3 separate regions of the Homo sapiens genome follow, and all the other regions are linked to region 2. The links come from fine-mapping of genetic effects on gene expression. A gene starts in region 2. Each other region holds a variant in brackets. All regions are shown on one strand. Distances are between the middles of the regions. Region 1 overlaps TTBK1 (tau tubulin kinase 1). Region 2 holds the start of MEA1 (male-enhanced antigen 1). Region 3 holds the start of PEX6 (peroxisomal biogenesis factor 6).

The links. PIP is the estimated chance that this variant, and not a neighbour inherited with it, causes the effect.
Region 1: its variant is fine-mapped to the expression of MEA1 in whole blood (INTERVAL, PIP above 0.99).
Region 3: its variant is fine-mapped to the expression of MEA1 in whole blood (INTERVAL, PIP above 0.99).

Annotation. Positions count from the first base shown.
Region 1 is chr6:43,275,329-43,283,501 of GRCh38, reverse strand. TTBK1 (tau tubulin kinase 1) reads right to left here. Exons shown (of 15, transcript NM_032538.3): 14 at 1-775. Among named protein-coding and RNA genes, the nearest start is that of SLC22A7, 19 kb to the left of the region's middle. RefSeq lists enhancers at 4,915-5,569, 5,570-6,225 and a silencer at 7,965-8,173. The variant C/T (reference allele first, on the strand shown) is at 3,954.
Region 2 is chr6:43,010,220-43,018,392 of GRCh38, reverse strand. It overlaps MEA1 (male-enhanced antigen 1), which reads left to right and starts at 4,447. Exons shown (of 4, transcript NM_014623.4): 1 at 4,447-4,607; 2 at 5,004-5,278; 3 at 5,365-5,467; 4 at 5,772-7,250. The coding sequence starts at 4,580. The coding sequence ends at 5,923. PPP2R5D (protein phosphatase 2 regulatory subunit B'delta) reads right to left here. Exons shown (of 16, transcript NM_006245.4): 13 at 7,824-7,925; 14 at 7,657-7,729; 15 at 7,396-7,512; 16 at 6,051-7,244. The coding sequence ends at 7,107. KLHDC3 (kelch domain containing 3) reads right to left here and starts at 4,144. Exons shown (of 11, transcript NM_057161.4): 1 at 4,045-4,144; 2 at 1,047-1,259; 3 at 698-874; 4 at 425-540; 5 at 177-248; 6 at 1-50. The coding sequence starts at 1,200. RefSeq lists enhancers at 4,196-4,315, 6,279-6,779 and a silencer at 4,526-4,575.
Region 3 is chr6:42,975,170-42,983,335 of GRCh38, reverse strand. It overlaps PEX6 (peroxisomal biogenesis factor 6), which reads left to right and starts at 4,155. Exons shown (of 17, transcript NM_000287.4): 1 at 4,155-5,067. The coding sequence starts at 4,186. It overlaps LOC124900215 (a long non-coding RNA gene), which reads left to right. Exons shown (of 2, transcript XR_007059580.1): 2 at 2,493-2,794. RefSeq lists silencers at 1,896-2,114, 3,353-3,549, 4,204-4,583 and enhancers at 3,744-3,793, 3,954-4,895. The variant G/CGGGG (reference allele first, on the strand shown) is at 3,448.

The DNA of each region.
Region 1 (8,173 bases), 270 kb before region 2:
AGGAGGTGACTGCCACGCCCCCGACCCCTGTGGTCACTGTCCCGGCCCCCAGCCCTGCCCCAGGCCCCGGGGGCTTGGGCTCAGACTTGAGGACAGAGGACAGGGTGCCTGGCTCAGATACGTCCAGCTGGCTGCCCGTGGGCTGGGGCCGCTCATGCTGAGGAGTGAGGGCAGCCAGGGTGCCCAGGTCGGGGTCGGGGGCCAGTTCGGCAGTGACGGGCGACTTCTTCATGTCGCCAGGAGAGACAAGCACCAGCGTTTTGGAGCCCTCCTCAGGCTCCAGGTCCCCATCGGCCATGGAGGCCCGGCCCCTGGACTCCTTCTGATCGTCTGCCAGCAGCGTGGACGGGGCACCCTCCTGGCTCCGGTCAGTGCTCCTCTCACTCCCCTCACTGCTGGAGCCACTACGAGGCCCCAGCACCTCCCCCAAGGCAACTGCCGCTGCAGCCTCCTCCTCCTCTTCCTCCTCCTCCTCTTCTTCCTCCTCCTCTTCCTCTTCCTCCTCTTCTTCTTCCTCATCCTCTTCTTCCTCTTCCTCATCTTCCTCCTCCTCCTCCTCTTCCTCCTTCCCATTAGCCTGAGGCTGAACAGGAGCCAGTGGGACCTGGGGGGTGGTGAGCAGCATGTGCGAGAAGCCCACCCTCCGGACCCTGTTGAGCAACCGCGCCCGTTCTCGGTAATCGGAGAGGTCTCTTTTGAAGTCCTGGTAGGGCAGACTCAGAGGCACAGCTCGTGGGAGGCCATTCACCTCAAATGGGGGCGCCACGGAGAACACCTGCAAGGGGCATACACAGGGACCCTCTGAGGTCACCCACCCTCCTGGGCCCAGGAAGACTTCAGCTGCACCCACAACCTAGGAGACTCACAGGCCCAGGTCGTCTACCAGAGTGTGAGCTCCATAAAGTTAAGCACAGGCACTGGGTCTGTCTTGTTCACTGCTCTGTCCCCAGGGCCTAGAATGGTCTCTGGCGCCTAGTGAGTGCTCAGGAAACCTCTGATGAATGACTGTCCATGCTCTAGGTCCCCTGAAGTCCCAGGCCCTGATCCTGGTGGCCTTTCTGCCTCCCAGCCTCTCTATGTCCCCAGCCCCTCTCATCGCCATGTGCATCCTGCACCCGAGTCAGCAACAATAACAGAAAATGAAAACTGGAAGGAACCACGACCACCACGCAGATCAGCCCTTCCTTTTACAGATGAGAAAGCCAGGTCCAGAGACGGCGGCAAGTATCTGTGCCACTTCCTGGATGGGCTGTGCCGGGCTGGCTCCTAGATGCCCTCAGTACCACCTCAGGGTGTGCAGTTTCTCTGTGGCCAGAGAGCTGGCTGCCCAGGGCCACCAGATCCTGTGCTGGACAAGGGCAAAGGCGGGGCTGTCCTCTACCCTTAAAAGTGCAGGCTGGGCCCCTCGACCTCCAATCCATCCTCTCAGCCAGGAATTTGTCCAGCCCTCGACAGGTATACTTGAGCTCCATTCCATTTTCCTCTTCAAAGTTTTGTGCAGAGCCCTTGGCAATGTGATGGACAAAGCAGTCCTTGGTTTTCTAGACTCTTGCCATGTCCCCCTTAGCCTCCTTCCTTCCAGACTAGAAAGGTCTGACCACCTGGTCAGGACCTTGGCTGCTGTGTCTCCTTCACTCTAGCTCCACCCTGTTCAATACACAGACATCCCCAGGCACCCGCAATGCCCTGGGCGCATCAGGGCTGACACAGCTTTGTTCCATGGTGGGACGGTGCTGACGATGTCCAGCACTTTGCTAGCATTTTCGAACACGCTGGGCTTCTGTCTTCCTAAGCTAGCCGAACACAGCCCATCCAGACCAGAAGCCCCGGGGATATCCTGCCTCCCCACTTTCCTGCCCATCTACGCTGCCAAGGAGTCCTGCCAAGCATCCTTCTTAAACTTCTCTGTGTCTGCTACCCCAGGCCCACGAGCACAGCCTTGCCTTTCCTGGTGGTTCCCCAGCCACCGGCCTGTTCTCTCCATTCTGCACTGCCGTCCATCCTTTTTACATCTGCCTGAGTGATCTTCCTGAAACTTAATCTGATTCCATCTCTCTCTGCTTCAAATCTGCTATGGCTGCCACAGTCCTTAGGAGACAGTTCAGATCTTTTTTTTTTTTTTTTTTGATATGGAGCCCTGCTCTGTCGCCCAGGCTGGAGTGCAGTGGCACGATCTCGGCTCACTGCAACCTCTGCCTCCCGGGTTCAAGTGATTCTCCCATCTCAGCCTCCCTAGTAGCTGGGATTACAGGTGCCCGCCACCACGCCCGGCTAATTTTTTTTTATTCTTAGTAGAGACGGGGTTTCGCCGTGTTGGCCAGGCTGGTCTCAAACTCCTGACCTCAGGTGATCCACCCGCTTCGGCCTCCCAGAGTGCTGGGATTACAGGCGTGAGCCACCACGCCTGGCCTAAGACAGTTCAGATCTTTGACTTGGCCCATGAATCCCCCACCCAGCCCTGTGACCTGGCTACTACTGGCTGCTCTGGTCTCACTTATTGCAACACCCTCCGTCCCCTGCCCCTGCCTACACTCCACGCATTCCGATGCTTCCAGAAGTTCCTAAGTGCATCTTCCAGCTCACACTTAGCCCAGGCAGTTTCCTCCACCTGGGGGCTCCTCTCACCTCCTCTCTGCACATGATAACTTGCTACCCTTCCTTCAAGACCAGCTCAAACAGCTCCTGGTCTTAGCAAAGAGGAGACAAAGCCTTCCTGTCAACTTTCCTGTCCACCCACCAAGCAGATTTACTTATTCTCCCTTTTCTACTTGTTTTCCACATCCTTCTGTGAGAGAATCTCCCACCTATTGTCCTACATGCGTGTATTTATAGGGTTCCCTCTCCTGATACACAGAGATCCCTGAGGGTTTCTTCATTTACTCCCTCAAGAAGTGGTCTTTGAATGTCTCTTGTCCTGGTCACCATGTTATAGTCTAAGAATCTGTGGATCAAGTATGAACAAGATAGAGATGGTCCTTATTTTCTCTATATCAGGAAACTAAGTGGGGATATGCACATTCCACAAAGGTTGTGATCATAAATGAGGTCATATAAGCAAAGGCATATAGCAGTTGCTCAATAAATGTTAGCTCTCTCCCACCCCTACCTCCCACCTCCTGCTCTGCTCACCTTGGTTTGGAGGTCATTGGCCCCCTCCCCAACCCCAGAAAAGCCTGGATGCCACACCTATGGGGAATAGCGTGTGGGGAAAGGAGGGGGCTCTGCCAGCCGAAGCCTCCATGCAAATAGCACAAAGCCTGGTGGAGAGGAAGGCAGAGACCTCCAAGGCTGAGGATCTGTCCAGGGCTGTGGCTGCTCCCCTTCCCAACTGCCATGATCTTCCCTGTAATCAGACCATCAGTGAGGATTTGGTGGGGGTGATGCAAGAAGATAGCTTCAGATTCCAGCAGGACCCCAGCAACCCTGTTTGGGCCAGGTAGGGAACTTTCTTAGAAAACTTTTCTTAGTTAGAAAGTTTTCTTAGAAAGCTTTCTCAGAAAGCTCCCTACCTGGCTCAAACAGGGTTGCTAGGGTCCCCTCAGCCTGGGGAACATGGCAAAACCCTGTTTTCACTAAAAATACAAAAATTAGCTGGGCGTGGTTGTGCACGCCTGTGGTCCCAGCTACTCGAGAGGCTGAGGAGATCAAGGCTGCAGTGAGCTGTGATCGCACCACTGCACTCCAGCCTGGGCAACAGAACGACACTGTCTCAAAAAACACAACAACAACAACAACAACAACAAAAAACTTTGTCCCCTCCACATATAGGCTGGAAGTGTCCAGAAGAATTTACTTTTTCTGCACAATATTCGTTCTTATTAATCCATTCATTCATTTAGCAAACACTAAGCACCAACTGTGTGCCAGGCCTTGTGCTGGGACACTTTGCCAGTCACCAATGTTATGGCTAGAGAAAATGGCTGGATAGAGGTGGAGGGGCTGCTGTAAGCTCC[C/T]GGATGAGTGGGGACCATGGGGTGGGTGGGTGCTGGCACTGAGAGTCAGGGACAGGTAGACAGACAGAGAGCTCTGAGCATGTCTCTCTCCCAACCACCTCTGAACTCACCCAACTGGCACCAGCACATCCTGCCCAGTAGGGATGGCCTTTAACTCCACCAGGCCACCCATTCTCCTCAGAACCTTTACCTATTGTCCCTCTCTAATCCCTGGCACCTTGGTTAGAGACACCCTTTCCTTTGCTCTCTGGCCAGGCCCTGGATCTCTCTGAAAAGGCCCCATGTAGAGGATGGGATCCCCCGCAACACACACACACAGTGCTCACATTGGATGGTTGTAGGTGGAACCCTTTCTCCTGCCTCCAAGCCCTCCCCTCCTATTACCTGGGAGAGAGGAGGAATGAGAACTGGAAATCAATGATCAGTCATAAAATCAGACTGGGAAACTGAGGCACAGAGAGGGGCATGGATTTGGGCATTGGTCCAGGTTATGAAGCACATCCACCAGGGTGGCCCAGGACCCAAAACTCTTTCCAGTGTCTCCCACTCAGTCCCACATGGGGACACCTGGAACCCTCTGCCTTTTGGGAGGAAGAGCCCTGAATCTCAGGGTGAGGACAACTTTGCCCTAAGGATCACTGCCACCCCCACACCAACCTAGGCATGCTGGCTTTTCGGTTTCAAAGTCCCTCTGCCCTTCCCCCATCTGGCTCTGTGCTGGGGAGGGGCAGAGGCTGGGCTCAAATTCCTCCCTCCTCAGAGAGTAGCCTAACCGTCTCCCTGCCTCTCCTGAATGCCCAGTGAATTATTCATCCATTTGCCCATTTGATCTTGAGTTCATTCACTCAGCCAGTGATCCACAGACACCGTCAGTGTGCGTGGCTCTTTAGCTGTCTGACAAAATTCACACCTTCTTGCTTCCTTCTCAGGGCAGCAACCTTTATGATTCTAATCTGCTTATTGTGGTTCCCAGGCCTGGCTTGGCACAACATTGTCCAGAGTTGCTTTTTAAAAATACACAATCCTGGATCCTACCCCCAGATTCTGTAGGTCAGAGAAGAGGCCCAGAAATCTGGCTGTTTTAAAGCTCCTTAGTGATTCAGAGTTCAGCCAAAGGCATATATGGTAAGGGTTCGGCTGTGGGGAGAGGAGGAGGACAGGCCAATCAAACTGATACCCTCAGAGAGAATGAAAGCCCCAGCCCCTCCCCTCCATGCACTGTGCCTCATCTAGAGGGCTAGGCCTCACCAGCTCAAGAGCCCAGCCCAAGTCCATGTTTACTCCAGTTAGGAGGAAAAGTGAAGGGAGAGGATGGACCAGACTCTGATCTTCAATTGCCACCAACAAAACTGGGCTCTCATGCCCTTGGGGAAACTTCTCTGACACCGACACTGGAGACGGGGCTCCACATAGCCCCACCCTTAACCCCCACACAGGGTGCATGGAGCCACTCCTGCCTGGACCCCAGCCAGCCCCAGACTTCAGGCACTGCACCCCGGCCCACAGTCCCAAAGTCCAAGATGTGGGGCTGGGAGGCGATGTGTGATGAAAGCAGGAGGGTGAGCCCTGGCTCCCCACTCCTCCTATGCTGAGGTCGGAGGCTTGTGCCTCTCACAGCAGTTCCTCCTCCTCTCTCAGAAACTGCCTCGTGCATGCCTCCCACCTCCTCTCCTCCAGTAGGGAAGAAGCACCCCCAACACCCCTGCTCCACCTGCGAGGAGATGAGATGTGCCTGCATCACCTCTGTCAGCTCCGCACTCAGCACCGCCTCTCCCAGACCCTTCACTTGCATTTGTCTGTCTGTGCCACCACTCTCCAAACGTCTCTGCCAAGCCAAGAGCCCTCCCTCCACTCCACCCCACACCCAGGAATGCCGGGGAAGGGGAAGGTGGCGGAAGGGGTAAGATGACCCGGGAACGTGGCCACCTACCCTGGGTCTATGCAGAACCACACCCACTTGACCCCACATCTCTGTGTCCAAAACCCACCCTTGCCTGCCCCAGGGCGAGGAGCTGACAGCCTGTGGGGGGCGTCTTCTAAATGCCCCGGGGCTTTGGGAATGCAGCTGGAGCTTGCCCCTTTGCCTTTCTGGTTGGCAGTGTGCGGGGATGGGGTGGAGGTATGGGGGGGCCTTCCTCTTTTACATTGTCCTCCTCACCTTTCCCCTCTCTCTCCAGTCTCAGAAGTCTGCCATTATTTCCTTCTTAGTGGCCCACCCCTCCCACTGACTGAGTTCTCCTTCAACCCATGTTCCATCCCTGCACCCCCAACCCCAGGTTCTCACAGTCCATGCTCCAGTGTCCCTCCTTGGCGGGCCACCCCCACCCTGGCACCCCCAAGGCCAGGGCTGCATCTCCCATATCTCTCAGATTGCCCATCGTAGCAGAGGGCCAGTGGGAGGCTCCTCAGTACAGTGTCCTCTCACAGGCCTCTGGCATCCTAGCTTTCTAGTCCCACCAGACACTTGGTCTCAAAAGCCTGATCCCATACAGAACTGATCACTGGGCCTGGTGGGCCCAGCCCCCTACTTCTACACACCCTCCATCCCCACCCGGAAGTTGGCAATTTGGAGCTGAGTCCCAGAGACCAGAGTCCACTCACCCCTTCCCTCCCCACCCGTTCAGTGAAAGGAGACTGCCAGCAGGGCAAGGGTGACTCAAGTCCAACTAGGCCCAAACCTCTGGGGTGCCCTCCTCACCCAGCTGCCTGGCTAAGGTGTGGACGAAGCTCATCCACTGACCCAGAACTTGCCCACCCCTCAGTCCCAGAGTCAGCAACAGACTAACCCCTGCCCTCTGCCCAGCCCGGCGACCTCAGAGCCAGGGTCTACACTGAGAGCTGGGAAAGGAAGGGGGAGGGTGAAAGAAAGCAGGCGGAGGCGCAGGTTCCTGGAAGGCGTCTTTAATCAGGATTTGGTAGTACACAAGCTCTCCGGATTGTCTGCATTAACATACAGGGACTTAAAAAGGCACAAAATCCCTCGCACAGCGACGCGTGACGGCGGGGCGCCCCCTCCCCGCCCGTGCGCGGCCGTGTGCGCGTGGGTGCGTGTCCGTGTCCCACCCCCGTGGCGGCGCCGCGCGTGTGCGTGTCGGTTTCAAGTGTTGGATTTGTACAGTACTCGCAGTCTAGGGGCAGGGGGCTCAGTGCATGCTTTTCTACCCGGGCCTGGGGCCACCCCCCGACGCCGCTATGTACACTAAGGAGGACGCACCCCGGAGAGAGAGAGGAAGAAAAAAAGCGTCCCATCTTCGTGTGCGTGTGTGTGCGTGTGAGCGTGTGTGTGGTTTTGAGTTTTTCGTGCATGCTTCCGCTGGCCAGGGTCGGGAAATAGTGCAAGCGTATAATACAGTATTATTGCAGTACAAAATGGGGGGTCGAGGGAAGGACTTACGATGGGAGGGGAAGGCTCAGGAATAAACCGACTGGGACTCAGGACCTCCGCGAGGGTCCTCTCGCTAATCCCCTTCCTATCCCTCCCCTACTCCGCCCCCACCCCGCAATTAGAAGGCGTCTCCTTACGCAGGAAGGGGCTCAGCTGGGCCCCGGTGCTGAGTTTCTCTCTCCTACCAGTCCCGCTTCTCCGGGGGCAGGGGCCAGCCCCTCTCCTCGCTCGACACTGAGAACTCTGAGGGCCCGGAGCCCCGCCCCCTCCCCCACGGAAGCCCCTCCGAGCGGGGAGCGGGGTCGACGGAGCAAGTGCAAAGGAAGCAGATGTTGGTCCCTGAGTTTTATTTTCGGGGGTGGGGGTGTGGGAAGAGCTGGAAATGGGGGGGCATGTTTGGTGACCCCCAGGGCCCTCAGTGGTGGGGTGGGGCAGGGGACGCGGATTGGGGCGTGGGCAAAAAGGGGGCTGTTGGGTTGCTCTGAGAGACCTGGGCTCAAAGCTCTGCTCCCCCTCAACTCTGGGCTCTTTGGCATCCAATTGCAAGGCCAATTATTGGGGCGGGGTGGGGGGCAGCCCGACGGGCAGTGAGGTAACGGGAGTCAGGGGTGGGGCGACAGGGCCCTCCGAGCCTGGAGGCTTAGCCGAACGCCTCCGCCTGTCCCCATCCGCACCCCAGCCTGGCAGCACTGAGGGGAGCCCCACTCCAGCCCGCCCCCGCCCCGGGGCCAGGGACCCAAAGGCCGCCAGCCAGCAGCAGGGAAAAGCAAACGAAAACGGGCGCGAAGGCGGGGCGACGGGGGCGGCGGGGGACGCGAACCCAGGGGAAGCCTCG
Region 2 (8,173 bases):
CTTCCCAGCATTGTGGCTGAGTGGAAGTCCCTCCAGCGTGCAGGGCTGCCCTGGGCAGAGGCAGAGAGATGGTGGAGGGGTCAGCACAAAGACTGGAAGAGGATCTCCTCTGACTGAGCTTCCTATCATTGCTTCAACAGAGGGTGGGGATTTGGGAAAAAAAAGAAAGAGCAGACCTTTGTACAGATAAGAGTCCATGTCATGGTGCTGGTATCTAGCTTGTGAATGTCATTGGAAAAACAGTCCGCCTGAGTAGGAAGAGAAAAGGAGGAAGAAAAGAGGGAGCCAATGGTCACTCTCTGACCCTCCATCCCTCCCCTCAAAACCTGCAAACAAGCCAAAGCCTCCCATTTCACCATCCTAAATTGCCCTTCCCCTCTTTCTCAGTCCCACCCTAAACCTCTTATTTTATTCCCAGACCTACCTGCTGCTCGTAGCCCCCAAAAATGTACATGATCTTGCCTAGGACACAGGCTGAATGTCCATCCCGGGCCCCAGGAACTGTCCCTGACACTCGGGGTGTGAACCACTTGTGCGTATCTGAAGGAGATGAGAAAATGGCTCAACTAAGCACCCTCTATGACAGTCCCTCCTCAGCTCTGGGGTACTCTACTCCCCAAGACCCCCAACCCAAACCTTTCTTGGGCAACTGAGGCAACATCTGGAAGGACATAGCCTCTCTGAGATCCATACTCACTGACGTCAAAGGCATAGAGCACATTGCAGGCCCCTTCGGTGTCATTCCGCCCGCCCCAAAGGAGGACTGTGTCGTCGATGAGGACGGTTGAGTGTCCATAGCGCATGTAGGGTACCACAGGAGCTTGCCCACGGATGGCAGACTTCACCGGGGGCAGCTTTGTCCAACGCAAGGACACTGTGGGCACAGCTCTGCTCAGCCCTGGGAACCTCCCTCCAGGCTGTCCACTTTTCCCAAACCAGATGTTTGTCCCCAATCCCCTTGGTCCCAGAGACCACAGCCAAACCTCATCAGCAGCCCGTTCCCACCCTGATGTGGGGACCCAGGGACAGCCCCAGCATTGGCTTACCTGCATTGAAAATGTGCACATCTATCTGACGCAGTGTCTCATAGTCTTCACCAGAGCAGTAACCCCCGAAGGAGTATACCCGATGCCCGACAGCCACTGCAGCATGGTTCACCCTGCGGGGCCCGCCCTCCAGGTGCACTGTCCACCGTAACATCCCCTGGGCCACTGGTTACAGCAACATGCCCCCCCGGCACGGCCTGCTGCCTCTGCTATCTGCACACAAATTGGGGCCACGGGATCCTCAGGCGAGGCTTCTGCCCAGCTCACTGTGACTCTGCCCAGAACCAGCCTTTGCCTCCAAGTGTCACCCTGGGGGCCCTCCCACACTACCCCTCCACAGGGGCACTAGTCTCAGCTCAGGTGGCTGGCCCTGCCCCAAGGGAGCTGCCGAGGTCAGGGAGCAGCCTGGGCCCAGTGTTCTCCAACAGTGAAGGGTGGGGCCACCCCCACCTGATTGCCAGCTCAGAATCTGCATATCATGGTCACAACCTACTCGTGGAGGCTCCACTCTGTCCCTGGCTTGGCACAAACTTGAAGCCCCCTTCCCAAACGGTATATTCTCTTGTCTCTGCTCTGCTTACTGCCACCTCTCTAAGAATCTGTGTTCTTTGAGGTGGGGAAAGGGATCTCAAAATACTCACAGCTATTAATAGCCCAGCCAGCCTCAAACAGTCCATTGAAAGCTGGCATGAGTGCCTCAAAGCAGAAAAGCTTTCAGGCTTTTAGAGTGGAACAATCCCCCTACCCAAGATAGGGCGGGACTGATCCAGGACAGGGACCTCCATGTTACCGCGGTTGGTTAGCCCCTCACAGGGAGCTCCTGTCAAGCTGAGTTGTTGTCATTGGGGTCACCCAGGGCCCCCCACAGGCACAAGGAGTTCCTTTGACAGCTGTGCCTGGTATGCTGCCAGGACTTAAGCCAGAAAGGTATGTGTATGCTTAGGCTTGGGGGATGGTGATAGAGGGAGGGGTTTTCTCCTCCTGCCACTTCCCCATCCCTGCTACTGTGGTAGAGAACAAGCCATTTCCAGTAGAAAAGAGAGAACAAGCTCTTCCACAACTTGGGTTCCTGAAAGGCGGATAGAGGTGGGAGTGTGCAATGCAAAGGGGAAGGGGCTGGGCACAGTGGCTCACACCTGTAATCCCAGCACCCTGAGAGGCCGAGGCAGGTGGATCACGAGATCAAGAGACGGAGACCATCCTGGCCAACATGGTGAAACCCGTCTCTACTAAAAATACAAAAATTAGCTGGGCACGGTGGCGCGCACCTGTAGTCCCAGCTACTCAGGAGGCTGAGGCAGGAGAATTGCTTGCACTCGGGTGGCGGAGGTTGGAGTGAGCCGAGATCACACCACTGCACTCCAGTCTGGCGACAGAGCGAGACTCTGTCTCAAAACAAAAAAAAAGGGGAAGGGAGGCAAAAAATGCCCTTGGGCAGGACAAGAGAAAGATCCAGCATGAGAAGTCATGGTCTTTTTTTTTTTTTTTTTTTTTAGATGAAGTCTCGCTCTTGCCCCCAGGCTGGAGCGCAATGGTGCAATCTCAGCTCACTGCAAACTCTGCCTCCCTCCCGGGTTCAAGCGATTCTCCTGCCTCAGCCTCCCAAGTAGCTGGGATTACAGGCGCCTGCCACCATGCCCAGCTAATTTTTGTATTTTTAGTAGAGATGGGGTCTCACTATGTTGGCCAGGCTGGTCTCAAACTCCTGACCTCAGGTGATCCACCGTCCTCGGTCTCCTGAAGTGCTGGGATTACAGGCGTGAGCCACCATGCCCAGCTGGTCATGGTCTCTTAAACACAACCTGTCAACCTAGTGGCACGTACACCTGGGTACATCTGAGGTTTTTTCAGGCAAATCCTTGCAACTGACAATGCTTTTGCTGGCAAGCATCTCCTGAGTTTGGGTGTATCATCATCTGCTCCCTGTTTAAGAAGCCCTGGCAGAGGAAAGGGCCAGGCAAAACCTCAGGCACTAAAACAGCTCAAATAAGGGAGGCCCCTTGCAGGAAAGAGACATGGCTTTCAGCTGGCTTGCTAGTCCCACCCACCCAACCTCCCCCAACTCCACACCCTAAGCTTTAAATAGCCATGGGACCCATCCTGAAATAGCCCCAGCAGGAAGCTACTCTCACTTCATTACTCCCGCTCTCCAAAATATCTTGGGTCTGGGCTTGTGGAGACTGTTAGGAGGTCGATGGGCTTAAGAATGGAAGTCTTCCATCCTCCCTTATATTCTCTATTCTTCCCTTCAGATATGTCAAGGTAAAGTAAAATATGCACAGGAGAGGAGATAAGCAATTCCAGCCAAAGGTGGAGAAAAAAAATTTTAGTTTCTCTGCCATATAAACAACTCAAATTCAAGGAGAACAAGCCCCCAGGCGCTCAGGGGCTCCTCTTATCCCTGGGTCTCCCCAGTCCTCCATCACCACCAAGCATTTTCAAACTTCTTCTATTCCCTTAATGTATCTACCCGCCTGGTCTCTTGCATTTTTTATTCCCCATTTCTCGCCCTTCTTGATCTCGTGAGAGCTTTGCAGTTTTCTCATTTTTCCTTCTCCTACCATTCCAAGCTCCACCCAACAGCCCTCCATTTTCCCACCTCCACTAAGGAAAGAAAAATTAGCATGCACTGACCACGATACCCCTCTCTGCATATGACTCTATCCCTGTCTTCTTCCAGACATTCCGGCCTCCCCTAGCCCACCACGCCAGACACCCCTCCCCTTCCATTATGCTCAGCTTCCCTGTTTTCATGGCCCAGTCTTCCTTCCCATTTCCTTCATTGCTTCCTCCAGACACCAGGTCTCTCCTACCCATCTCCTCGCCATCCTCCCCTAGCCCTGCTTTCCCCATTAACACTCTCCTTTCCCATCATCCCCCTAGCTCCCTCCCCACCCCCACCTCATCACTCTCAGGCCCCTCCCCCGCCACTCCAGCTCCAGACAGCACGTCCTAAGCCCCCTAATTCTCCCTTGCCCTTCTACCCATCCCAGGCTACCTGCCAGGCCGAGCCGGGGCGGGGCCGCGGGTCCTCGAGCTGCCTGCAGCCTAGAACCCGTTGCGCGCCAACCGACGCCTTAGTCCCCAACGAGATAAACACAGCCAAGCTCGGTTCTTCCGGCGGGCAGCTGTGCGCGCACGTGCAGTCGTAGCTAAGTGCCGGAGGCATTTCGGGACTTGTAGTCCATACGTTTCCTGAGGGACGAGAGGGCTGAGGAGTGGGCAGGGGCGTAGGAGAGATTCTGCGCATGTGCAAATATGTGTCGAGACCGAGGAGGCCACTGGGTAATGCAGTCCTTTGTTTTTTGGGCTGGGAATGACGGAGGCGGGGCAAGGGGCGGACTCCTCGTCCTCGCCAGCGTCAATCATGGATATGGGGCGGGGCTGGAGGACTAGGCACCTCTGCACGTCCTGCCCCGCCGGAAGTGGAGGCCGCGGGCTCTGAGCGGGTGAGGCGCGCGGGAACACCGGCGCCGGGATTCGGATGGGGGCGGGTGGGGGACGCTGCAGCTGGGGCCATTTGAGGGGAGCCCATGGGGCCTGAAAGGCATCTGTCAGGCGGTACAGAGGGGGTCCTCTAGGAGAGGGGAGAAGGGGGCGGGTACGCCGACCTGTTTAGGGGAGTCTGATGACCCAGAGTTCCCAAGTCGCGGGGGAGGCGTGGCGCGGGGAGCCGGGGTTCTGGAAGGGGTGTCTTTTAGGAGGTGGCAGGGCCTCCGGTTGGGCGTTTAACTAGGAAGTGGCGGAGCAAGTTGGTGGGGCCTGGTTCAAGATAAGAACCCCGACTTAGGAGGGGGAGGAACGAGAGGCTGGAATTGGGGCGGAGGGGTGGAGGATGCAGGAGCCTCGGGGAGGAGCTGGTTTTTTGCACGCAGGAGACTACAAGGAGATGATGAGAGGATGAAGATGGGCCTGGTTTCATCCGATCCCTGTCCTACCGCCTCCCTGTTCTTGCAGCCCCTGCCCGGATGGCAACAGTAGTTCTAGGAGGAGACACCATGGGCCCTGAGCGTATCTTCCCCAATCAGACTGAGGAACTGGGACATCAGGGCCCTTCAGAAGGCACTGGGGATTGGAGCAGTGAGGAGCCTGAGGAAGAGCAGGAGGAAACGGGGTCGGGCCCAGCTGGCTACTCCTACCAGCCCCTGAACCAAGATCCTGAACAAGAGGAGGTGGAACTGGCACCAGTGGGGGATGGAGATGTAGTTGCTGACATCCAGGATCGAATCCAGGTAGGGTGGAGGAGGGATGGTTCCTGAACAGGTGAAGCTGGGCTCCCTGAAAGCCTAGACCCAAACGGTCTTCTGTGGCTCTGCAGGCCCTGGGGCTTCATTTGCCAGACCCACCATTAGAGAGTGAAGATGAAGATGAGGAGGGAGCTACAGCGTTGAACAACCACAGCTCTATTCCCATGGACCCAGGTAAAAGATCATTCTTTCATTCTGGAATAATTACTAAGGAAATGAACTGGCATGAGTCAGTAGAAGGAAGTTTCAGAGGAAGACCCTATCCTAAAAAGATAGTTTGTAAACTAAGATTTTGTAGACTTCAGAGTCCAAGTGAAATGCTCTTTTGCTAGCTTTGGGGATGGGCAGGCTTGCCTTAAAGTAACAAGGTGGATTTGGTGACCCTAGCAGCCCAAGGGCTCTGGGTTGATTCGGGGATTGGGGAGGGGAGCTGGTCCCATTATTTCTATGCCTGAATGGCCTCTGGCTCTGATTTCAGAACATGTAGAGCTGGTGAAAAGGACAATGGCTGGAGTAAGCCTGCCTGCGCCAGGGGTTCCTGCCTGGGCTCGGGAGATATCGGATGCCCAGTGGGAAGATGTGGTACAGAAAGCCCTCCAAGCCCGGCAGGCATCCCCTGCCTGGAAGTGACCACAGTGAGAGCTGCCTTATATTCCTACATTCCAGGCCAGAACCAGCACAGGACTGAACACATCCCTGGTTGTAATGTCCATTTCCATCTTCCCCGTCTCCCTTTCCACATCAAGGCACATCAGACTTCTCAGAGACCCACTTTATTCAGTTCTGTACATATGGGGACATCGGTCCAAGCCCAACCCACCTTAGCATGTATCACTCTGTGGAGAATAAAGCACCCTATGTACACAGCCAAAAGCCGCACTGCCTGCGCCCCTGGAACCTGGGTCCGGCCTTCCTCAGCCCCTGGCCCCTCCAAGGTACCTATAAGGGACAAGAGAAGGCCTGCCCAGCATAGCACAAACAAGGAAATAAATAGGTGTTGGCAGGAGCCATGCTTGGGGCACCGCTCCCTGCTTCCTTCTTTCTAGTTTTGGGAACCAACAGCACAGAAAAGCAGTCAGCCCCAGGGTGGTCCCTTCCATGTCTGTGACCCCAGGGCTGCTGCTCACCAAAGACAGGGCACGGGGTAGGGTGTTTATTCATCCCTCCCCGGCCCCACTTGGTCCATCTGGGCCCTATATTCATCAGTTATTGTCCACAGCCTATACTTTTCTCCTTTTGACCTCCCTTGGTCAGGCATGGGGTAAGAAGAAATAATACAACCCTATCTGCCAGCACACGGCTGGGACTGGGGGGCCTATTTGTGCTGCAGGGGGGTTGGCTTCCCTTCAGCTACTCTGGGACCAATGGGGCTTGACATAACTTTGGTGAGAATAATCTCCTGCTGTTCCCTACATGCCTCTGCAGGGGAGAGAGAGGAGGGGAGATACCTGGCGTTCAAATGAGGATGAAGGGAAGAATAGAGGAGCGTATGTATTCCTGTGTGTACTTCTCAGAGCAGCCTCAGGTAGCTGTGGGTGAGGAGCAGGTAGGGGACAGGCATCCCCAGGTTGTCTGAGCACTAAGCATCTTAGTGCTCAGCCTGTACTAGCCACAGGGAGGCATGAACACCTTTTGGGGAGAAGAGGGACCATTCTGTGGGTGTCCCTGCTTCAAGTGCCCACATCCCCCTCCCTTGAGTAGCTAGAGAGGCGCTGCCTTCCCCCAAGACAGCCAGTAGGGAGCAGAGTATGGAGGGCCAGGGCAGTGTCCCAGGGCTGTGTGGGCTGTGGCCCTGTGGTAGGAACGTGAGGGGTCAGAGAGCCTCCTGGCTGGCAGTTAGGAACTCTTCCGCCCGCTTGTGCGCCTCCAGTGCCTTGATGGTGTACACGTCCTGGGGCAGCTCCGACTTCCTCCGCAGCAGCACTTTCTCCTTCTTGATGTCTTTTAGCATCTGTGTGTGAATAGGGACAAGGTGAGGAATGGTGACCAATTCCCAGTGAATTCTATTGTTCCGTCCCCTTATTCTTTGGCTCTGCTGTTTCTGTCTCCTCTCCCTTCCAGAGCTATTATTTCTGCTCCATCCCCCTACATTGCCCTCCCACCTGAACAGCCTCAGTCTCCACAGTCCTCTTCAGAAGCTGGATGTCCTCAGCTGTGGGGGTCTCTGTCTCCATCGAGTACACAGGGGGCAGTGGTGGAGGGGCTCGGAACATGGGATACTGAGTGAGGAGACATGGACAAGCGTTAAGAGCCACTTCAGAGGCTTGGGGGCCTGTGTGCCCCATATTCCTCCCCCAACAAACTCTCCCCCAGCTCAAGATGGGCTGGCCCCTCAGTTCACAACAGTGGCAGGAAAACCTCACCTGGGGATTAAGCCGGGCCAGCTCCTCGATTTTTTGCCACATCTCTTCCCTTTCCTTCATTCGGAACCGGCCCCTGAGGAGCAAAAGTAGGATTGGGGTTGGGCTTGAGAGAAACACAGTGAGCTGGTGGTAGAAGATGAAAGTCTCCCGGGGAGAGAGATACTCACTTCTGCTTCTCTGCCTTGTATTGTTGTGTGCAGTCATCAAACAGCTTCTGATTCATTTCCATAAACAACTTCAGGGCATTATAGATCAGTCCATGGATTGTCCTGCCACCAAGAAGAAAGATGAGGTGTAGGAGGCCAGAGCCTGCCCTTAGCGTGAGGAACCCAATTTGTTCTCTCACAGGGGTATCTCTGCTAAGAGCTTTGTCATTTACTACTTCCAGTTCACAAACCTCTGTGCAGTATCAGAAGAGAGCTCTGGCCAAATCACCTGGTTTGAGACTGGCATTTCATGGTTTTCACAAATATCGGTCCACCTGTCCATCCTTCCCTCACCCCATGCTCCAAGGCCT
Region 3 (8,166 bases), 35 kb after region 2:
ACCATAGTGGTGAAACCCCATTTCTACTAAAAATACAAAAATTAGACAGGGTGCGGTGGCTCACGCCTGTAATCCCAGCACTTTGGGAGGCCGAGGTGGGCGGATCACGAGTCAAGAGATCGAGGCCATCCCGGCCAACATGGTGAAACCATGCCTCTATGAAAAATACAAAAATTAGCGGGGCGTGGTGGCGCGCGCCTGTAGTCCCAGCTACTCGGGAGACTGAAGCAGGAGAATCACTTGAACCCGGTAGGAGGCTGAGGCAGGAGAATTACTTGACCCCGGTAGGTGGAGGTTGCAGTGAGCCGAGATCATGCCACTGCGCTCCAGCCTGGGCGACAGAGCAAGACTCCGTCTACAAAAAAAAAAGAAGAAACCTGTGATGCAAAGGCATGAGAATGATACAATGGAGGCCGGGCGCGGTGGCTCACGCCCGTAATCCCAGCACTTTAGGAGGCCGAGGCGGGCGGATCACGAGGTCAGGAGATCGAGACCATCCTGGATAACACGATGAAACCCCGTCTCTACTAAAATAATACAAAAAAATAGCCGGGCGTGGTGGCAGGCGCCTGTAGTCCCAGCTACCCGGGAGGCTGAGGCAGGAGAATGGCGTGAACCCGGGAGGCAGAGGTTGCAGTGAGCCTAGATCATGCCACTGCACTCCAGCCTGGGCGACAGAGCAAGACTCCGTCTCAAAAAAAAAAAAAAATACTACACATTGGGTACAGTATACACTGCTTGGGTGATGGCTGCATCAAAATCTCATAAATCACCACTAAAGAACTTATTCATGTACAAAAAATAAATTTTTAAAATTCTATATAAAATAAAATATTTAGTCTTAAAAAAAAAAAAGGTCAGGCGCAGTGGCTCACGCCTGTAATCCCAGCACTTTGGGAGACTGAGGAGGGCGGATCACCTGAGGTCAGGAGTTCAGGACCAGCCTGGCCAACATGGCAAAACCCCGTCTCTACAAAAATACAAAAATTAGCCAGGCATGACGGTGGGTGCCTGTAATCCCAGCTACTCAGGAGGCTGAGGCAGGATAATCCATTGAACCCGGGAGGTGGAGTTTGCAGTGAGCCGAGATCGCACCATTGCATTCCAGCCTGGGCGACAGGGCAAGACTCCATCTGAAAAAAAAAAAAAAAAACACAAAACCTGTGTCCCTTACCCAGGTACCCAGGAGAGCAATGTTACAAGACAGTGGCCGTGGGGATGGAGAAGAGAGGATGGAGCATGAAAATGTGTAGAATCAACAGGATATGGTGATTCATTGTATTGTGGGGGGGACGGTAACGGAAAGGGAAGAGTTGAGGATGATTTCTGGAAGTGATCAGAGTTGTAGGAGGACAACTGGTGTCATAATGGCAAAGGAAATAAAAGACAATTGGTCAGTAGTGTCAGAGAAAGAACAGCATCATCTTGATTCTGCAATTAGAAGATTATGGGTGATTTTTTCAGAGAGTGGAAGACCGTTTTTAGTGAGTGGAAGAGTGAGCATCAAGAGGTGAGGAAGTGAAGATGGCAAATGTAGGGTCCTGGCGATCTTACAGAAGTAGTATTTGGCTTTCGGTGACTAATGACGATTTCAGGGTAACACAAAGTGGACTACATGCCCGCTGTTACCTGCTGGGAGAAAAGCTTGGGAGAAAAGGACATTTATTTGTGGGTGGGTATTTGTGTCTGTATGAGTGCTGATCCAGGCAAGATAACTGATGTTTTTACCCATCTCCAAGGCCTCAAGGAGCACTATAGTCCTGAGGCCTAGAGCTTGCCTGCTACTGAGGAAAGCAGGCATATCCTCTTTAGGCCCATGTACCATCTATCTAGCCCTTGGTTCCTCTGGGACATAGGGGACCAAGAAACATATAGTAGCACTACCAAATGGGAACTTTCATCCATGTGAATCTAGGTACCTAGAACATTCTTTATTTAGTTTTTTTTTCTTTTAATTTTATATATTTTAAGAGACAAGGTCTTGCTCTGTCACCCACTTGGAGTGCAGTGGCACAATCATAGCCTCAAATTCCTGGGTTCAAGTGATCCTTCTGCCTCAGCCTCCCCATAGCTGGGATTATAGACACAAGCCATGGTTCCTGGTTAGTACATTCTTGCATGCTATTTTATTTATTTTTTTCTATTATTTATTTTTTTGAGACGGAATCTCACTCTGTCACCCAGGCTGGAGTGCAGTGGCGCAGTCTCGGCTCACTGCAAGCTCTGTCTCCCGGCTTCACGCCATTCTCCTGCCTCAGCCTCCCGAGTAGCTGGGACTACAGGCACACACCACCATACCCAGCTAATTTTTGTATTTTTAGTAGAGACGGGGTTTCACCATGTTGGCCAGGCTGGTCTCAAACTCCTGGCCTCAAGCAGTCCACCCACTTGGCCTCCCAAAGTGCTGGGATTACAGCCATGAGCCACTGCGCCCAGCCCCTTATAATATGCAAATCTAATAGTTTTCATATATTTGTCTTTCAAATTTTCAGGAATGTATAATGTACAAAATAGAAGACTGCCTCAAGAAGAAAGGAGAGATGGAGAAAGCTGAGCAGTAGCTGAAAGAGAATGTAAGGTCTAGAAAATGGAGATTGGCACCATCCAATTCATTTATTGTAAGTGAAAATAATTGTTAATAATTGGAAATGCAGTGGGACATGATGGCTTATGCCTGTAGTCCCAGCACTTTGGGAGGCTGAGGCCTGAGGATCTCTTCAGACCAGGAGTTTGAGACCAGCCTAGGCAACACAGAGAAACTCTGTCTCTACAAAAAATAAAAAATTAGTCCAGGCGCAGTGGCTCATGCCTGTAATCCCAGCACTTTGGGAGGCGTAAGCAGGTGGCTCACTTGAAGCCAGGAGTTCGAGACCAGCCTGACCAACAGGGTGAAACCCCGTCTCTACTGAAAATACAACATTAGCTGGGTGTGGTGGCACACACCTGTAATCTCAGCTACTTGGGAGGCTGGGGCAGGAGATTCTTTGAACCTGGGAAGCGGAGATTGCAGTGAGCTGAGATCGTGCCATTGCACTCTGGCCTGGGCAACAAGACCGAAACTCCGTCTCAAAAAAAAAATTGGCTGGGTATGGTGGCGTGTGCCTGTGGTCCCGGCTACAGTTACTCGGGAGGCTGAGGTGGGAGATCACTTGAGCCTGGGACGGTAGAAGCTGCAATGAATGGGGATCGTGCCACTGTACTCCAACCTGGGTGACAGAGTAGGACCCTGTTGCCATAAAAAAGGAAATGTGGCCTACCACTAGCTGAGTGTCTTGTACAGAACAGTGGAGGTGAAGAGAAGGATGGAATCTAAATAACAGCACACGCAGGAAGTCGACTGTTGGTGTTATGCTGACAGAAGCCTTGAACTCCTTTCCTTCTGCCTGCTCTGCTGCCTGCCCCGCTCTAGGATAGAAAGTGAATGGGTTTCCGATCTGCAAGGATTTG[G/CGGGG]GGGGGGGGGGTGAAAGAAAAGCTGTTTTGTCTTCAACTTAAGTTTGGTGGGAGTAAAACAAACAGAACAATGAACAGGGCAAGAAGTCCTGGAACATGGGTTTTGTGCCAGATGTGCTGGAACATGTGTGGTGGCACCAAGCACTCCAGGGCTGTATGAATCACATCTAGTAATTCACTCAGCAGCCACTATATACCTATAAGCAAGTGTGAGACAGTTTTCTAATCCTGCTACTCCCTCCTGCAACCTTTCCTGCAACCCTCAAACCTCAGTGCTCACAGTTCCACAGGGGAAGCTGCAGGAGCTCCGCAGAGGAGCGGACTCCTTCCGAAACATTTCACCTAGAGCTCCCAGTACTGGGCCCAGTCATCCCGAGCATGCTGACTGTTCATTTATCAGTCAATAAACTGTTACGTTCATGCCACGGGGAAAAATAGTTAAGAGAACATTACTTCCGTAGAAGGCAAAGATAAATCCCTTAAGCACAAGTTCAAATGGCGCATGGGTAAACGCTACGCAACCGCAGCGATGAAGGTTACTGCCTATCGAGGCACGACGCAGATCAATCCGAGGCGCAGCTAACCCCCTCAGAGCAAGTTCGCGGCACCCGACCCCCCTCCCCTTTTCCTCTGGCCTCCCCTGACGGAAGCGGAAGCGGCCCTCGCGCACACTAGTCGTCTGGCTCTCTGGCTCCGGAAGCTGCGCTCCTTCACCCTCCTCGTTGGTGTCCTGTCACCATGGCGCTGGCTGTCTTGCGGGTCCTGGAGCCCTTTCCGACCGAGACACCCCCGTTGGCAGTGCTGCTGCCACCCGGGGGCCCGTGGCCGGCGGCGGAGCTGGGCCTGGTGCTGGCCCTGAGGCCTGCAGGGGAGAGCCCGGCAGGGCCGGCGCTGCTGGTGGCAGCCCTGGAGGGGCCGGACGCGGGCACCGAAGAGCAGGGTCCCGGGCCGCCGCAGCTACTGGTTAGCCGCGCGCTGCTGCGGCTCCTGGCACTGGGCTCCGGGGCCTGGGTGCGGGCGCGGGCGGTGCGGCGGCCCCCGGCGCTAGGTTGGGCACTGCTTGGCACCTCGCTGGGGCCTGGGCTCGGACCGCGAGTCGGGCCGCTGCTGGTGAGGCGCGGAGAGACCCTCCCAGTGCCCGGACCGCGGGTGCTGGAGACGCGGCCGGCGTTGCAAGGGCTGCTGGGCCCAGGGACTCGGCTGGCTGTGACTGAGCTCCGCGGGCGGGCCAGACTGTGTCCAGAGTCTGGGGACAGCAGTCGGCCCCCACCCCCGCCCGTGGTGTCCTCCTTTGCGGTTTCTGGCACAGTGCGGCGACTCCAGGGAGTTCTGGGAGGGACTGGAGATTCACTAGGGGTGAGCCGGAGCTGTCTCCGTGGCCTTGGCCTCTTCCAGGGCGAATGGGTGTGGGTGGCCCAGGCCAGAGAGTCATCGAACACTTCACAGCCGCACTTGGCTAGGGTGCAGGTCCTAGAACCTCGCTGGGACCTCTCTGATAGACTGGGACCCGGCTCTGGACCGCTGGGAGAGCCCCTCGCTGACGGACTGGCGCTTGTCCCTGCCACTTTGGCTTTTAATCTTGGCTGTGACCCCCTGGAAATGGGAGAGCTCAGAATTCAGGTAGGATAAAGGACTGGGGTCAGGAGTGCTTCCTCTTTCTTATACCCTCTTCTCTGTCTTAGGTAAATTGGAAGATTTAGGACTCGTGCCCCATATCATCCCGGACTTTGAACATAATGTTTCTAGCCGGGCGCGGTGACTCACGCCTGTAATCCCAGCACTTTGGGAGGCCGAGGCGAGCGGATCACTTGGGGTCGGGAGTTCGAGACCAGCCTGACCAACATGGAGAAACCCCGTCTCTACTAAAAAAATGTAAAATTAGCCGGGCGTGGTGGTGCATGCCTCTAATCCCAGCTACTTGGGAGGCTGAAGCAGGAGAATCGCTTGAACCTGGGAGGCGGAGGTTGCGGTGAGCCAAGATCGCGCCATTGGACTCCAGCCTGGGCGATAAGAGTGAAACTCTGTCTCAAAAAAAAAAAAAAAAAAGCATAATGTTTCTTAGCCTCATTTATCTATTTTCTTTTTCTTTCTTTCCTTTTTTTTTTTTTTTTTTTTTTTTTGAGATGGGGTCTTGCTCTGTCACCCAGGCTGGAATGTGGTGATGCGATCTCGGCTTACTGCAACCTCCGCCTCCCAGGTTCAAGCGATTCTCCTGTCTCAGCCTCCTACTACTGGCTCGCGCCACGACGCCCGGCTAATTTTTGTAATTTTTAGTAGAGACGGGGTTTCACCGTATTGGTCAGGCTGGTCTCGAACTCCTGACCTCAGGTGATCCACCCAAAGTGTTGGGATTACAGGCGTGAGCCACCTCACCCGGCCTATTGATCCATATTCTGTAATCAAAATATCATAAGCCTCCATAATGTAGTGGGGCATACAAAAGGCTTTCATCCATTCAGGTGAAAGGTGAAGTTTGGGTGTGGTGGTGCATGCCTGTAATCCCAGCTACTTGGGAGGCTGAGGCAGGAGAATTGTTTGAACCTGGGAGGTGGAGGTTGCAGTGAGCCCAGATCACACCACTGCACTCCAGCCTGGACGACAGAGCGAAATTCTGTGTAAAAAAAAAAAAAAAAAAAAGTGAGGTTTCAGATGTGTATGTTAATCTACTCAATCTAATTAGTTTATTGAATTGCTACAATGTATTCAGTATTGTGCTTTATAATATGGAGGATGATGTCTCTGTGCTTTTGCTCATTCTTATCCTTGACTTCAAATTGTTTCCTATTATTCTAGCCTCATCTGTTAAAATCCTACCCTCCTTTCCCTCAAGAGCCATCTAAAGATGACACCTTTATCACAAAGCCTTTCATGATCTCACAGCCACGAATTTAGAACTTCCTCCTATAGCATTTTCTATCTTTTTTATGGCATTTATTTTATTCTATCTTGTTATGATTACATAATCTGTTTAATCCCCAATTATATATTGTAAATACCTTGAAGGAAAGGAGTCTTTATTATCTTTGGTGCCTGGTGTTTAGTTTTAATATTTTATTAAATACATCCAAGGAAAGTTTTTGGTTTCTGCCTTTACTTCAAGAAGAAAGTTGTAGAACAGATAATAGTTGTTCCATTTCCATGGGTTACTGAGTAAAGACTCACCAGTTCGCCATAACAGACATAAGAGTGACAAAAAAATAAACCTTCATTGTGTAAAAAAAAAAAAGGCCAGGCGCAGTGGCTCATGCCTGTAATCCCAGCACTTTGGGAGGCTGAGCCAGGCAGATCACTTGAGGTCAGGAGTTCGAGACCAGCCTGGCCTACATGGTGAAACCTCATCTCTACTAAAAATACAAAAATCAGCCCAGTATGGTGGTGCACACCAGTAAACCCAACAACTGGGGAGGCTGAAGCAGGAGAATCGCTTGAACCTGGGAGGTGGCAGTTGCAGTGAACCCAGATCACACCACTGCACTCCAACCTGGGTGACAGAGCAAGATTCTGTCTCAAAAAAAGAAAAAAATGAAAGTTGTGTTTAGGGGGACAAATACAGTATAGTGTTTAATTAAGGACCTAGATATATGGTTTAGATGGTGCTGTCCAATATGGAAGCCACCAGCCACTTTGTGGCTTTTTAAATTTTTAAATTTAGTTAAAACTAAATAAAGTAAGCCTGGCTAACATGGCGAAACCCCATCTCTATTTTAAAAAATACAAAAATTAAATCCCAGCACTTTGGGAGGCCAAGGCAGGCAGATCACAAGGTCAGGAGATTGAGACCATCCTGGCTAACACGGTGAAACCCCGTCTCTACTAAAAATACAAAAAAAAAAAAAATTAGGTGTGGTGGCACATGCCTGTCGTCCCAGCTACTCTGGAGGCTGAGGCAGGAGAATCCCTTGAACCCAGGAGGCGGAGCTTGCAGTGAGCCGAGATGGTGCCACTGCACTCCAGCCTGGGTGACAAGCGAGACTCCATCTCAAGAAAAAAATAAAACCCACAAAAATTAGCCAGGCATGGTGGTGCACATGCCTATAGTCCCAGCTACTCAGGAGGCTGAGGCACAAAGAGAATCATTTGAACCCAGGAGGAAGAGGTTGCAATGAGCCGAGACTGTGCCACTGCACTTCATCATGGGCGACAAAGTGAGACTAAGTCTCAAAAAAAAAAAAAAAACTAAATCATGTTTTTTAGTTGCTTTAGCTACATTTCTTTGTTTTTGTTTTGTTTTTAGCCACATTTCAAGTGCTCAATAGCACATGCAGATATAGACTATTCCATTGTAGAGAGTTCTACTGGGCAGTACTAGAGTAACCAGTTAATACTTTGGGATGTCAGGTAGAGATACATGTGAAATACATGTGAAAGGGAGTGGATGTAGGTTTCCTCCTGAATGGAGGAAAAACTACTGGGGTACTCAAGAGTAGAGCTCATTGAACCAACCAATGACTGAACCAACCCGTTCAGCTTTTCCCACAGCCTGAATTCAGTTTCCCCACTAATGACCACTTAATGTTAATCCCTGTGGATGCCTGGTGTCACTAATAGGTCTTGTGGGAATAAATGTCTTTACCATTTCACTGGCTCTGGGCCAAGTTGAAAGTGTCACAGAAAGGTTATCTTTACTGAGAAAATTTTTTGGAGCCAGAGTCGGGATAGGAGGTGATATTCTCTTCCTGGTACCCATTAGAGGGAGAGGTTTTCAGGTCTGCTACCTCA